Homo sapiens: one gene and its partner. The protein of the gene in region 1 purifies or fractionates together with the protein of each later gene. This does not show direct contact. Each region holds a gene or a part of one and is shown on either strand. Other genes may lie near its edges. The genes, in order: FBLN2 and RSAD1.

Region 1 (7,278 bases):
CAGGTGACACTTCGGCCAGTGGCATAAGAATGATAATAATACCACTATCCTAGTGTTTGCCTTCCTGATGGGTGCAAGGGAGAGGCTGCAGTGGTTTTACTTTGTATCTTGTTGTTTCTTGCGTCCCCACCCGGGAGGGCTGGCTTGGTGCAGTGTGACTGCCTGGCTGGCCACCGCAGCCAGTCCCAGGGGCTTTGTTTGCTGGCCAGGCTCTGACTGCTGGGACTGTCCCCCCGCAGGGAGGTCAGGCCTCCTTCCCCACCCCATCTCCAGGGGCTTCTTTTTTCAGGTTGCTGAGGGGTGGGAGCTGTCTGCAGAAGCCGGGGTTGTGGGAAAACTCAGCTGGAGCTCCCAGGAGGGGCATGTTTGATTCTGTGACCCTGCAGTGTAGAGACTGTGCCCTCCTGCTTCTCTCTTGTACGAGTGTCCCCAGCCCTGCTTGCTTATCTCTGGCGATAGATAGGGAGCTCACTCCTTCCCAGCAGCCTGGTCAGTCCCTGCCCTGGAGGGAGTGTTCTCCACTTGGAGCTGACATCTGCCATCTCCTCCATGCCCCCACCTCCCGCCCCACACATACACGCCCCATTGGGAGCAGCTGTGGAGATGTGAGGACAGTGAGGTCTGCTATTCTCCCAGGTGAGCCACCCCAAGGGGCCTGGGCCCCCTCACCACGTGGGCCACTCCCTCTCGACACATCCCAGATGGTCCTTTCCCCTCCTGAGTGGACATACAACCATCAGACAGCACCAGGATACTCTGAGCTGCATGCATTTGGGGGGGCCCAGACGACTTGGGGAACCTGGGAGCTCACACCCCATGTGACATCTCAGGGTGGCCAGAGCTCTGTGGCTTGAAACAGGAGTTGGAAACCTGAATTTTTATGTGAACGTTTTCAATTTATGCATGCTGGTAACCAATTTAAAATGAGAAACCCACTGTGTGAGCCAAACGAAAGCACTTATGGGCCAGATAATGCTGGTGGGCCCCCGACTATGACCTGAGGTATGGTGGAACACGTTCACTGGGTGGATGCAGAACCAGGGCTCAGAGAGGGCCAGGGCCGTGCCTGGGGTTGCGCAGCAAATGTGGAAAATGCAGAGTCAGGCTTGGGCCTGATGTTCTTTATCATTGCCCTGGGCCTGGAGTGGGGAGATGGGCAAGCCTGAGGTTTGGGATTGCTTAAGCATGGACAGAATGTGATGCTGGGGGCCTGGGGGGCCAAGGGGCCAGGTCACCCTGGGGGCTGTGCCGGTGAGCAGAGCAAGGGGATGGACTTGGTGGACCGGGTGGTGGGGCAGGGTGGGCTGGGAAGGAAGTTCTTCTGGAAGAAGTTCTAGGACAGCCCTGTGTCCTGTGGCTGGGGTACTGTCCTCTCAGGACACAACGTTCATGCCTAGGTGTGTGATGCACCTGAAGGCAGGAGGGCAGGGAGCTTGGGTCTCAGTTCACCAAAGATTTCCTTTTGTTTTGAGACGGGGTCTCCCTCTGTTCCCCAGGATGGAGTGCAGTGGCACGATCTCGGCTCACTCCAACCTCCGCCTCCGGGGTTCAAGCAGTTCTCCTGCCTCATCCTCCTGAGTTGCTGGGATTACAGGCACACGCCATCATGCCTGGCTAATTTTTGTATTTCTGGTAGAGACAGGGTTTCACCACGTTGGCCAGGCTGGTCTCGAACTCCTGACCTCAAGTGATCCGCCTGTCTTGGCCTCCCAAAGTGCTGGGATTACAGGCGTGAGCCACCTCGCCTGGCCAAAGATTTCCTTTCTTAAAAGACACTGTCAGCTGGCACGGTGGCTCATGCCTGTAATCCCAGCACTGTAGGAGGCTGAGGCAGGAGGGTCGCTTGAGGTCAAGAGTTCAAGACCAATCTGGGCAACACAGTGAGACCCTTGTTAAAAAAAATTAGCTGGGTGTAGTGGTGTGTGCCTGTAGTTCCACCTACTCAGAAGGCTGAGGTGGGAAGATCGCTTGAGCTCGGGAGGTTGAGGCTGCGATGAGCTATGATCACACAACTGTGCTCTAGCCTGGACAACAGAGTGAGACCCTGTCTCTAAAAACAAACAGAAAGAACTGTTGAGAGTGGACCTGAGGGCCTCTCCCTTGCAGTCTGGAGGGTCCTTGCTTTTGCTGACTGGGAGTAAAGGCCCTGATTCTCCCAGGGGCCCATTCCTAATGTCAGTGGCTTTACGGAGTCCTCCAGCTTCCTGAGGTGGCACCTCAGTGTGAGGGCAGGGGCGTCAGCCCTCGAGGCCCCAGAGGCTCCCTAGCACTCCGCCGGCCCTGAGCCTGGTCTGGGCATGGGCTTCCATCTCCCTGCCCGTCCATGGCCCTCCACCGCAGCCTTCCCTGCCTCGGTCACACAACTCCCCCTTCCAGGCGCTCCTGGACTTCTGTCTTCTGTCCGCTGCATCCTATCCATCAGCAAATCCTGTGGGTCCTACCTTCAAAATAGATCCCCTGTGCCACCATCTCCTGCCTCTCTTCGCTCACTGCCCTGGGCTCTCTCACCTGCTCCCTGCTGGCTCCCGTGTCTCAGCGCAGTGGGCAGCTGGGTGGGTCCCTTGCACTGGAGAGTCCCAGGCTCCAGCGCTTACAGGCACGCCCAGAGGCCCTCACAGCAGGCTGGAAGCCCGTTGCTCTGCAGTTACCACCCGTGTGCTGATGTGGCTCAGCCCTGGGGGCCCTCTCTGTCCTTCACCTTTCTGCTGCTGGTCCGGCCTCAGCCCCTTGGCCCTGCCACTCCCTGCCTGACGCCCTCCTCAGAGAAGCCCTCCTCTTCCGCCGGACTGACACGGGCTCCCCTGACACTGCCACGTCCTCCTTCCGTCTCCTTGATTCCCTTCATTTATTTCATCATGGGGCTCATGCCTGCCTGGCGTTCAGTTCTCTACAGATTTGCTCTTGGGTTTATTATCTGCCCCTCCACCCCTGAGGGTGTCAGTGCTGTGAGGACGCTGGGAACCTGTCTTGCTGGCTGATAAACCCCTGGTTCCTAGAGGGGCTGGGTGCAGAGGAGGCGTTCCTTTAGAAATGGGGCAGGCTTGGGGACCACTGCTGTGGTAACGAGTCCTGCTGTCCCTCTGTCACTGCCCTATGGGGCTGCGCTTTAGGCTGGGAGTCGGAGAAGGAGCTCTTGCCTGTGACTTTGGGGAGCACGCTGTCTATAAGAGTCAGGTACGGCCACTGGGTCACAAGTGGGGCTACAGGCACTGGGGACTTGGGCCAGGGTGGAGGAGGGAGGAGGCATGAGGACTGGTGAGAAGGTGGCATTTGAGTGGCTTGTGCAAGATGAGAGGGGAGAAGAGCCCTTGGGGGAGTTCAGGCCTAAGGGCCTGTGGGAGGGTCGGGTTGGGATGGCTCCTGCAGGGCCTTGAGTGCCAGGCTCAGCTGGGAATCCAGACCTTTCCTTTCTGGCCATGGGAAACTGGGGCGGGCTGTGGGGCCGTGGCATGTCGGGGCCAGCTGCTCTCAGGCCAGACTGGGTTCCCTGGGAAAGGGGAGGAGTGGTGGGCAGGGAGGTGGCGGGGCTGTTCCAGTGGAGATCAGAGCTGAGACTGGAGTGGGGACAGGGCCTAGAGATGGAAGGAAGGGGTAGAGACCGTGGGGAGGGAGTGGAGACAGATTGCGGGGAGAATGGACATGACTGGGGGAGTTGGTGGGGTGTTAGGGACAGCAAGGCATCAGGATGCATTTGCCAGTGCTACTGGGGAGGGGGACAGGAGCGTCCCCTGGGGCTAAGCCTGCAGTCCCGAGGGTCTCAGAGGTGTGTTCCTGAGTCCTAGGGTCTGCGGGCTGGGGCTGTAGGGGGCGTCTTGTTCTTGCCTAGCATTTCCCCACTGACTGTATTTTCTGGCCAGCAGCTGTGGTGCGTGGCTGGGGACTGAGTCAAGGATCTGGGGGGAGGGATTGGTCGGGTGTGTGCGTGGGACTGTGCGTGTGAGACCGCCCAGGGTGTGTACTGGCACGTGGGCATGCTGTGGGTGAGACAGCGTGTGTAACTGCATAGAGGATTATGGGGCATATTGCCTGACGTGCCCTGGTGAGTGTGACCGAGTGGGTGTGGGGCTGTGCATGTGTGTGTGTGGGCACGAGGGCTCACTCAGAGGACCTGCCTCAGAATGCAGGTGAGGATGGAGGATGGAGTGGCCCAGCAAACACGTGTGGGGCTGTCAGCGACTCCAGGTCAACACCTGTGGCGCCCAGCGACTAGACACTCACCTGTGTGTGATCTGACCCATGTGTGGCGGAGCCTGTGTGTGTGTGTGAGGCAGTGCTTAGTGTGCTCCTGGGGATGAGCGCATGCGTGTGAGGTGGCTGAGGCTGGGCCCCTGCCCGCGTGCGTGCCGGTGTGCACCGTGTCTGTGTGTGCACACCCAGTACTGACAGGCTTCCTTTCTGATTCCCCCAGGGTCTTACAGGAGAGGGGACCGTCCTGGGCTGGCCTGGACCATGGTGCTGCTCTGGGAGCCTGCAGGAGCCTGGCTTGCTCTGGGCCTGGCCCTGGCCCTGGGCCCCAGCGTGGCCGCAGCTGCCCCTCGGCAGGACTGCACGGGCGTGGAGTGCCCGCCGCTGGAGAACTGCATTGAGGAGGCGCTGGAGCCGGGTGCCTGCTGTGCCACGTGTGTGCAGCAGGGCTGCGCCTGCGAGGGCTACCAGTACTATGACTGCCTACAGGGTGGCTTCGTGCGCGGCCGCGTGCCCGCCGGTCAGTCCTATTTTGTGGACTTCGGGAGCACTGAGTGCTCCTGCCCACCAGGCGGCGGCAAGATCAGCTGCCAGTTCATGCTGTGCCCGGAGCTGCCGCCCAACTGCATCGAGGCTGTAGTGGTGGCTGACAGCTGCCCACAGTGCGGCCAGGTGGGCTGCGTCCACGCGGGCCACAAGTACGCCGCTGGCCACACTGTTCACCTGCCGCCCTGCCGGGCCTGCCACTGCCCTGACGCCGGTGGAGAGCTCATCTGCTACCAGCTCCCCGGTTGCCACGGGAACTTCTCAGATGCCGAGGAGGGTGACCCCGAGCGACACTACGAAGACCCCTACAGCTATGACCAGGAGGTGGCCGAGGTGGAAGCAGCAACAGCCCTGGGGGGTGAGGTCCAGGCGGGTGCAGTCCAGGCAGGCGCAGGGGGCCCCCCAGCTGCTCTGGGAGGTGGGAGTCAGCCACTGTCCACCATCCAGGCACCCCCCTGGCCAGCTGTCCTCCCCAGGCCCACAGCGGCTGCTGCCCTGGGTCCCCCAGCCCCAGTGCAGGCCAAAGCTAGGAGAGTGACCGAGGACAGTGAGGAGGAAGAAGAGGAGGAGGAGGAGAGAGAGGAAATGGCTGTCACTGAGCAGCTGGCAGCAGGTGGCCACAGGGGGCTGGATGGGCTGCCCACTACAGCCCCAGCTGGACCCAGTCTTCCTATCCAGGAGGAGAGGGCAGAAGCTGGGGCAAGGGCAGAAGCTGGGGCAAGGCCTGAAGAGAACCTCATCCTGGATGCCCAAGCCACGTCCCGCAGCACTGGGCCGGAGGGCGTGACGCATGCACCGAGCCTGGGCAAGGCTGCTCTCGTCCCAACTCAGGCCGTGCCTGGCTCTCCCAGGGACCCAGTCAAGCCCAGCCCCCACAACATCCTGTCCACATCACTGCCTGATGCAGCCTGGATCCCACCCACCCGAGAAGTGCCCAGGAAGCCGCAAGTTCTGCCCCATTCCCACGTGGAGGAGGACACAGACCCCAACTCTGTCCATTCTATCCCCAGAAGTAGCCCTGAAGGTAAGACCCTGTCCTGGTTCCTTCAGGGCACTTTGTGTGGGAAGGGCAGCCTTGGGCTCTGGCCGCTGCCCCAGGTCTCTGCCTGGGGCTGGGGATGCTGGACTGTGGGGCCAGGCCTAGGGTGGCCACCCCAGGCCCTTGGTTTGGGCAGGAGGCTGTGAGAGTGCATCTTCTCCCAGGCCCAGCTCTTGGGATGGGATGGGTGGGTGGGAGTGGGGTTCCTGTTGTGGGAGGTGCTGGGCCCCCTGGTAGGGCTGCGGTAGTGGTCAAGGGTCCAGAAGGTGCACATCTTCAGAGCTGGGGGCCCTGAGGAGGGTTCCTGCCTCAGCCCGGTAGGCCCCCACGTGTCCTGGCAGGAAATGCGAAGGGCGGTCTCTTCTCAGCTGCCCCGGTGGCTGGCCTGTGGCCTAGGAGCCTAGCATGGCCACCTCTGCCAATTTTTCAACAAATGTCAGCCAGAAAGCTGAATTTTATGTGACATCTTCCCATTTCTAAGTGTCTGCAGCAAATCCTAATCTCACAAGCATGTGTTGTAGAAAGAAGTGAACTCGTGGACAGAGGCGAGGTGGGTGGGCCATTTGAGCAGGGGCGCTGGCCATGCTGGGCCAGTGGAGGTGGTGGGGCCACACCAGCTGTACCCTCACTCCATGGAGGCCCCTCTCCGAGCTGGTCAGGCAGCTTCCCATCAGTCCTTCCAGCAGCACCGAGTGCTTACTACTATGTACGCTGTTTCACCAGTGAGGCAACTGGGGCTCGAGGGTGGTGCTGGAGGCTCAGGTCACACAACCAGTGAGCAGTGGGCCTGGAAGGCCCTGGAGCCTGCACTCCTGACCCTATATCCTCCAAGCCACCTGCCACAGAGTTCAATACACTCCATCGGGCACATCAGAGCAGGCAGCCAGGACCAGGGCACCCAGGCTTCAGATAGGGACCGGCCCAAGGCTGTGCAGAGGCTGGTAGGCGGCCCAGGCCTCTTCTTGCCCATCCATGCCTGCTCCCAGCAGGTCCTCCATAGCCCAGCACAGTCAGACACCCCATTTGAAGACCCCATGAGCTGTGGCGAGAAGGGGAATGGTCCGCTGAGCCTACCTAAGAGCCGTCCTCAAAGGGCGCTGCTGCTAAGCAGGGGCCACAGCCCCCACGAGGCTGACCCCTTCCTGCTTACTTTAGGAGCCTTGAACTCCTGCAGGGGGTGATTCTGTCACAAGAGCTGGGGGCTTGCAGATCCAGAAGCCTGGTCTAGCTTCCATGGGGACCTGGGGTGATGCTCCTAAGACCCCACGCAGGTTTGAAACCCCCGTGGGCCAACACTGGAGAGGAGAGGCTTCAGGAGTCCTCTAGCAAACAGGTTAATCTGGGTGGATAACCCTGTGCTGCCACAGCCTAGGGAATCTGGGGGCCTCACAGACCCACAGACATTGGAAAGGCCCAGAGCTCCGTCAGTGTGAGAGGGGACAGCCCCGCACCTGGGGGGAGCGCCTCAAACACAAATCAGATCATGCCACCTTCTGCCCTATATGGCT
Region 2 (4,893 bases), on another chromosome or scaffold:
GTAAAATAGAACTAATATTGGAGGGTTACAAAGATTAAATTAGACACTACATAAAGGTGCTTGGCACATAGCGACCCTTCTGTGAATGGCAGCTCTTGGTGCCAGCTTGACCTTCCCCCTCCTGCCTTCCAGCTGCCTGCCACGTGCTGCGTTCTCCCTGTATCTGTGTCTACAATGGGGAGGAGGGTTCTTGTCTCTCTCTGAGCTGCTGGTATGCTTACACCCACCCTCTTTTCCCAGTCCCTAGATGACACTGAGCTCCGGCTGTTGGGACGGACGCACTCGGCCTGCGATGCTCTGCGGACGCTGGCAGAGGCCCGGCGCCTCTTTCCCGGGCGCGTGTCTGTAGACTTGATGCTGGGGCTGCCGGCACAGCAGGTGGGGCCGTGGCTTGGGCAGCTGCAGGAACTGCTGCACCACTGTGATGACCACCTCTCCCTCTACCAGCTGTCCCTGGAGCGGGGCACCGCACTCTTCGCCCAGGTGCAGCGGGGTGCCCTTCCAGCCCCTGACCCGGAGCTCGCAGCTGAGATGTACCAGAGGGGCCGGGCTGTCCTTCGGGAGGCTGGCTTCCACCAGTATGAGGTCTCCAACTTTGCCCGGAATGTAAGTTCTGGGGCTGATGGCTGGAGGTGGAGGATGGGCAGACTGCAGTGTGACCAGGGCGTTGTGACCTTCTGAAGAGAAGGATCCTGGCCGAGATGGTGGGACATTCTAACCTGGGGCCCCTTACCTGAGTCTAAAAATGAGGCCTGCCCTCTTCACTCTGCACTATTTCCTCCCTCCCCGCAGGGGGCGCTCAGTACCCACAATTGGACTTACTGGCAGTGTGGTCAGTACCTTGGCGTTGGGCCTGGTGAGTCCCGTGAACTACAGAAAGGGTGACTCAGGAGAGGAATGTCGTGGCTGTGTGAACTTGGGCCACATTAACCTCTCCAAGCCTCTATTTTCTCATATGTAAAATGTGGCAAAAAATAATACCTCCCTATAGAACTGTTGAGCATGAATTATAAGGGGCTTAATGTTGCACCTTGCACTAGGGTTCTCAGCCTTTAGTGTGTATGAGAATCTCCTGGAGGGCTTGTTAAAACCCAAGCTGCTGGGCCCCACCCTCAGAATTCCCAATTGGACAGGGCTAGAGGAGAGCCCAAGAATTTATATGTCTTGGCATTTTGGGATAGATGATTAAAAAAAAAAGAAAAAGAAAAAAGGGCCTGGTGTCATGTGCCTCTAATCTGAGCTACTTGGGAAGCTGAGGTGGAAAGATCGTTTGACCCCAGGCGTCCAAGACCAGCCTGGGCAGTATAGTGAGACACCACCTCAAAAAAAAAAAAAAAAAAAAGAAAGAAAGAAAGAAAGAAAAGAAAAGAAAAATAATTTATATTTCCAGTATGTTAGAGGCAGTTGCTCCAGGGACCACATGATTTAAATCTGGTAAACACATAGTATTAACAGCCATTAATGTGGGGATGGTTGTTGATGTTGTCAGGGGCCCATGGACGATTTATGCCCCAGGGGGCTGGAGGCCACACCCGGGAGGCTCGGATCCAGACACTGGAGCCTGACAACTGGATGAAGGAGGTGATGCTGTTTGGCCATGGCACCCGGAAGCGTGTCCCCCTGGGCAGGCTGGAGCTGTGAGCATCCAAGGGCACAGGGCTCTCCTCCAGGATCCCCACACCCCAAGACCATGTCTATTTGTATATCTTTTATTTCCTGTCTTGTCCTGGCCCCTGCCTTGCCACATACTGTATGGTCCCTGTTAGCCTCCTCTAAATGCATCCCAGTGTAGAATTTGGAGAATGGGAGGAGCACAGGCCTCCTCTCTAAGACTCCTTGGTGATTTTTCTTTGAGGCTGGAGGAAGTTTTGGCCCTGGGGCTACGCACCGATGTGGGGATCACTCACCAGGTAAGGAGTTAGGATTCTTGCACACCACTCCCTCCTAAAGTCTTGCAGAATCAATGCCCCCTCCCTGCCACCCCCCCCACACACATATACCTCCAATTTCTGTGAGATTGGCAGCTAGAAGTGGGGCCCAGGTCCAGCTGAGGCCTGATGGGCAGAAGCAGTGAGCAGTGGTGCATAGCTAAGAACCCTAGACCAGGGCTGCAGAGACCCAAGTTCCAGCCCTCATTTTACTGCAACCTTGGACACAAATCCTTTCACCTCTCTTAACCTCAATTTTCTGAGCTCTGTGAAGCAATAGATAGATAAAGGGTTTCCACTTGTTTTTAGGGAGCACTGAAACCTCTCATAGGAAGCACAGTAGATAATTATCAAGCAAATCCAGAGCTGCTCTGGATAAAGCAGAGCCATAAAGCCCTGGCTAGAGCTGGCTGAGAGGGGAGGGAAGAGAGGAGGCATAGAGGAAGGCCTGGCTTGGCTGGAAGCTGGGTTCCAGTCTCAGTGGAATAGGAGTGAAGCTGCCCTCCTCCCTGCTGGCCCATTGGCCTGGTTCTGCTTTCATGCATGTCAGCTGCTGAGATCTCCATGCTGAACTGGACCCTCCCCCACCTCTCACCATACCCCAACTATGTGGCCCAGAGTAGCCAGGCCAGCTCCCCACCTCTGACCCTCTGGCTTCCCCAGCACTGGCAGCAGTTTGAGCCCCAGCTGACCCTGTGGGATGTGTTTGGAGCGAACAAGGAGGTGCAGGAGCTGCTGGAGCGGGGCCTACTGCAGCTGGATCACAGGTGTGTTGGGGGGTGCCGGGCAGAGGGGGCTGAGGCATACCAGGGAGCCCTGACTACAGCTCTCCACAGACCCAGGAGAAGTGAGAAAGACTGACTGGTAAGGCGGGACCTGCGGGTGCTGGGAGCTCGGCCCTGCTGGGTGATGGGCTTGAAATTGGTAAGATGAAGTAGTCACCTTCAGGCCTCTTGGTTTTCCAGGGGTCTTCGGTGTTCCTGGGAGGGTCTGGCTGTGCTGGACTCTCTCTTGCTGACCCTCCTGCCTCAGCTCCAAGAAGCCTGGCAGCAGAGAACCCCCTCCCCTGTGCCAGGAGGATGACAAAAATGTTCCTGTGTTCCAGGGTAATGCCAGGTGGGTTTTGAGAGCTGGGTCGGTACTGCAGACATCTCTTCTCCGTTGTCGGGTGCCGTCTCTGCTCCTTGTGGTTATTGCTCAGCCCTGGCATCCCCAGGGGAATGGCAGCAGTGAGGTAGATGGGAGGACATTTCTGGTCAGGGAACTGGCATCCCATTCAGCATCTCAGGACTCACAGGCCAACATGTGTTCCATGGCTGGGAATTGCCTACCACCCACATCAGCTTCTGTTTACCTTTTTGGCATCAAATAATGAACAGTGTTTGGAAATCTTTCTACAGGCAATTACCTCCCCAAGAGAAGCCTTCCTTATTTTGGAGTAAGGTCCTAAGATAGCTGGATGAATCAGGAAAACCATGTCCCCTCTAGGTATTATTAATATAAGCAGGAAGGGATCTACTATAGGAATGAAGTATTTATAAACCACTGAAAGGGATAGAGAAGTGAACATTGGAGAAAGCCAGTAGCAACTGTGAGAAATCAGCAACTTGCAGGAGGCACAGAAAACTCCTGCTGATGGTCTCAGCTTCCAGCAGCACAAAAGCAGATGATGTACTGGAAAATGCTCAGAAGATGCTACAAAACCTCATGCCTACTGTCTGCCACTGCTGGAGAAGGAATCATGGTTTCTAGAAGTGCCTCTCATTAGTGGACTTTAAAGCAAATCCTGGCTGGCAGGAAATTCTGAGGAATATAGCTCTTAGGCTTCCAGCCTCTACCATGCAGGAGAGAACACAGAAGGACTGATGTATGTTGGTGGATCCATGTATGTGTCCAGCACAGCGGCCTGCTGGACTCTGAGAACTGGGAAAGATCAGAGCAAGCCTTGCCTCTTATCTTCGGGAAACCAGAATATGTTTGGGGTGGTAGGAGCCACACAGACTCTTCTGAGCCCCCTCACTCACTTCCTTCCCCCTGTGCCTTTCCTTTGAGAGTGAAGGTGGGTGGAGTTGACCAGAGAAAGGGGAGAGAATTCGGGAAAGACCCAAAGTGTTTGTAATTCTTCTTTGTCCTTTTACCTACAGAAATGGTCACATGGTTCTATTTAAATAGCCTAATAAACACATCTGGAGCCTGTCTTGACTGTGGTCCTCTCCTTTGAGCTCCTTCCTAGAGCGTGGAATCCTGATTTTGGGACTAGAACCTTAGCCTAGGGCTGAGATTCCTTCCCCCGCTCCCTACATTTTATTTTGAAGGATTTCAGACCTACAGAAAAGATAAAAGAATAGTTCATTGGAAGCCATATATCCTTTGTCTACTATGTAACTATAAAGTCTGGAAATAGGCAAATATTCATAATGCCATCAAGAACATCTTCAATCTATTGAAAAATATGATAGGCCAGATGGGGTGGTGCATGCCTATAATCCCAGCACTTGGGGAGGCCAAGACGGGAGAATCACTTGAGCCCAAGGGTTTGAGGCCAACCTGGGCAACATAGCAAGACTCTGCTTCCAAAAAAAAAAAAAAAAAAGTTTCCATACTTTGTGGTTACCCTATAGATTCATCAATTGTTAATTTTTGGCCACATTTACTTCATCTTTAGATAAATATGTCTGTATAATTTTTTTTCTGAATAATTTAAAAGTTGTAGACATCAGGCCAGGTGCAGTGACTCACACCTATAATCCCAGCACTTTGGGAGGCCGAGGCAGGTGGATCACTTAAGGTCAAGAGTTCAAGACCTGCCTGGCCAACATGGCAACACCCCTTCTCTACAAAAAAGAAAAAAAAATACAAAAATTAGCCAGGCGTGGTGGCACGCACCTGTAGTCCCAGCTACTCGAGAGGCTGAGGCAGGAGAATCGCTTGAACCTGGGAGGTGAAGGTTGCAGTGAGCTGAGAT

What was found.
Region 2: the proteins of FBLN2 (region 1) and RSAD1 purify together in Homo sapiens (co-immunoprecipitation; 2 studies listed by BioGRID and IntAct, with this or other methods). This does not show direct contact.

Annotation. Positions count from the first base shown.
Region 1 is NC_000003.12:13,565,907-13,573,184, forward strand, and holds part of FBLN2 (fibulin-2 isoform a precursor), read left to right. Parts: intron 1-2,833; exon of another isoform or gene 2,834-3,174; intron 3,175-4,408; 5' UTR 4,409-4,449; coding exon 4,450-5,755; intron 5,756-7,278. UniProt on the Homo sapiens protein: Its binding to fibronectin and some other ligands is calcium dependent. May act as an adapter that mediates the interaction between FBN1 and ELN.
Region 2 is NC_000017.11:50,481,851-50,486,743, forward strand, and holds the end of RSAD1 (radical S-adenosyl methionine domain-containing protein 1, mitochondrial precursor), read left to right. Parts: intron 1-240; coding exon 241-606; intron 607-792; coding exon 793-856; intron 857-1,489; coding exon 1,490-1,637; intron 1,638-1,855; coding exon 1,856-1,910; intron 1,911-2,591; coding exon 2,592-2,695; exon of another isoform or gene 2,696-2,792; intron 2,793-2,893; coding exon 2,894-3,011; 3' UTR 3,012-4,124; downstream 4,125-4,893.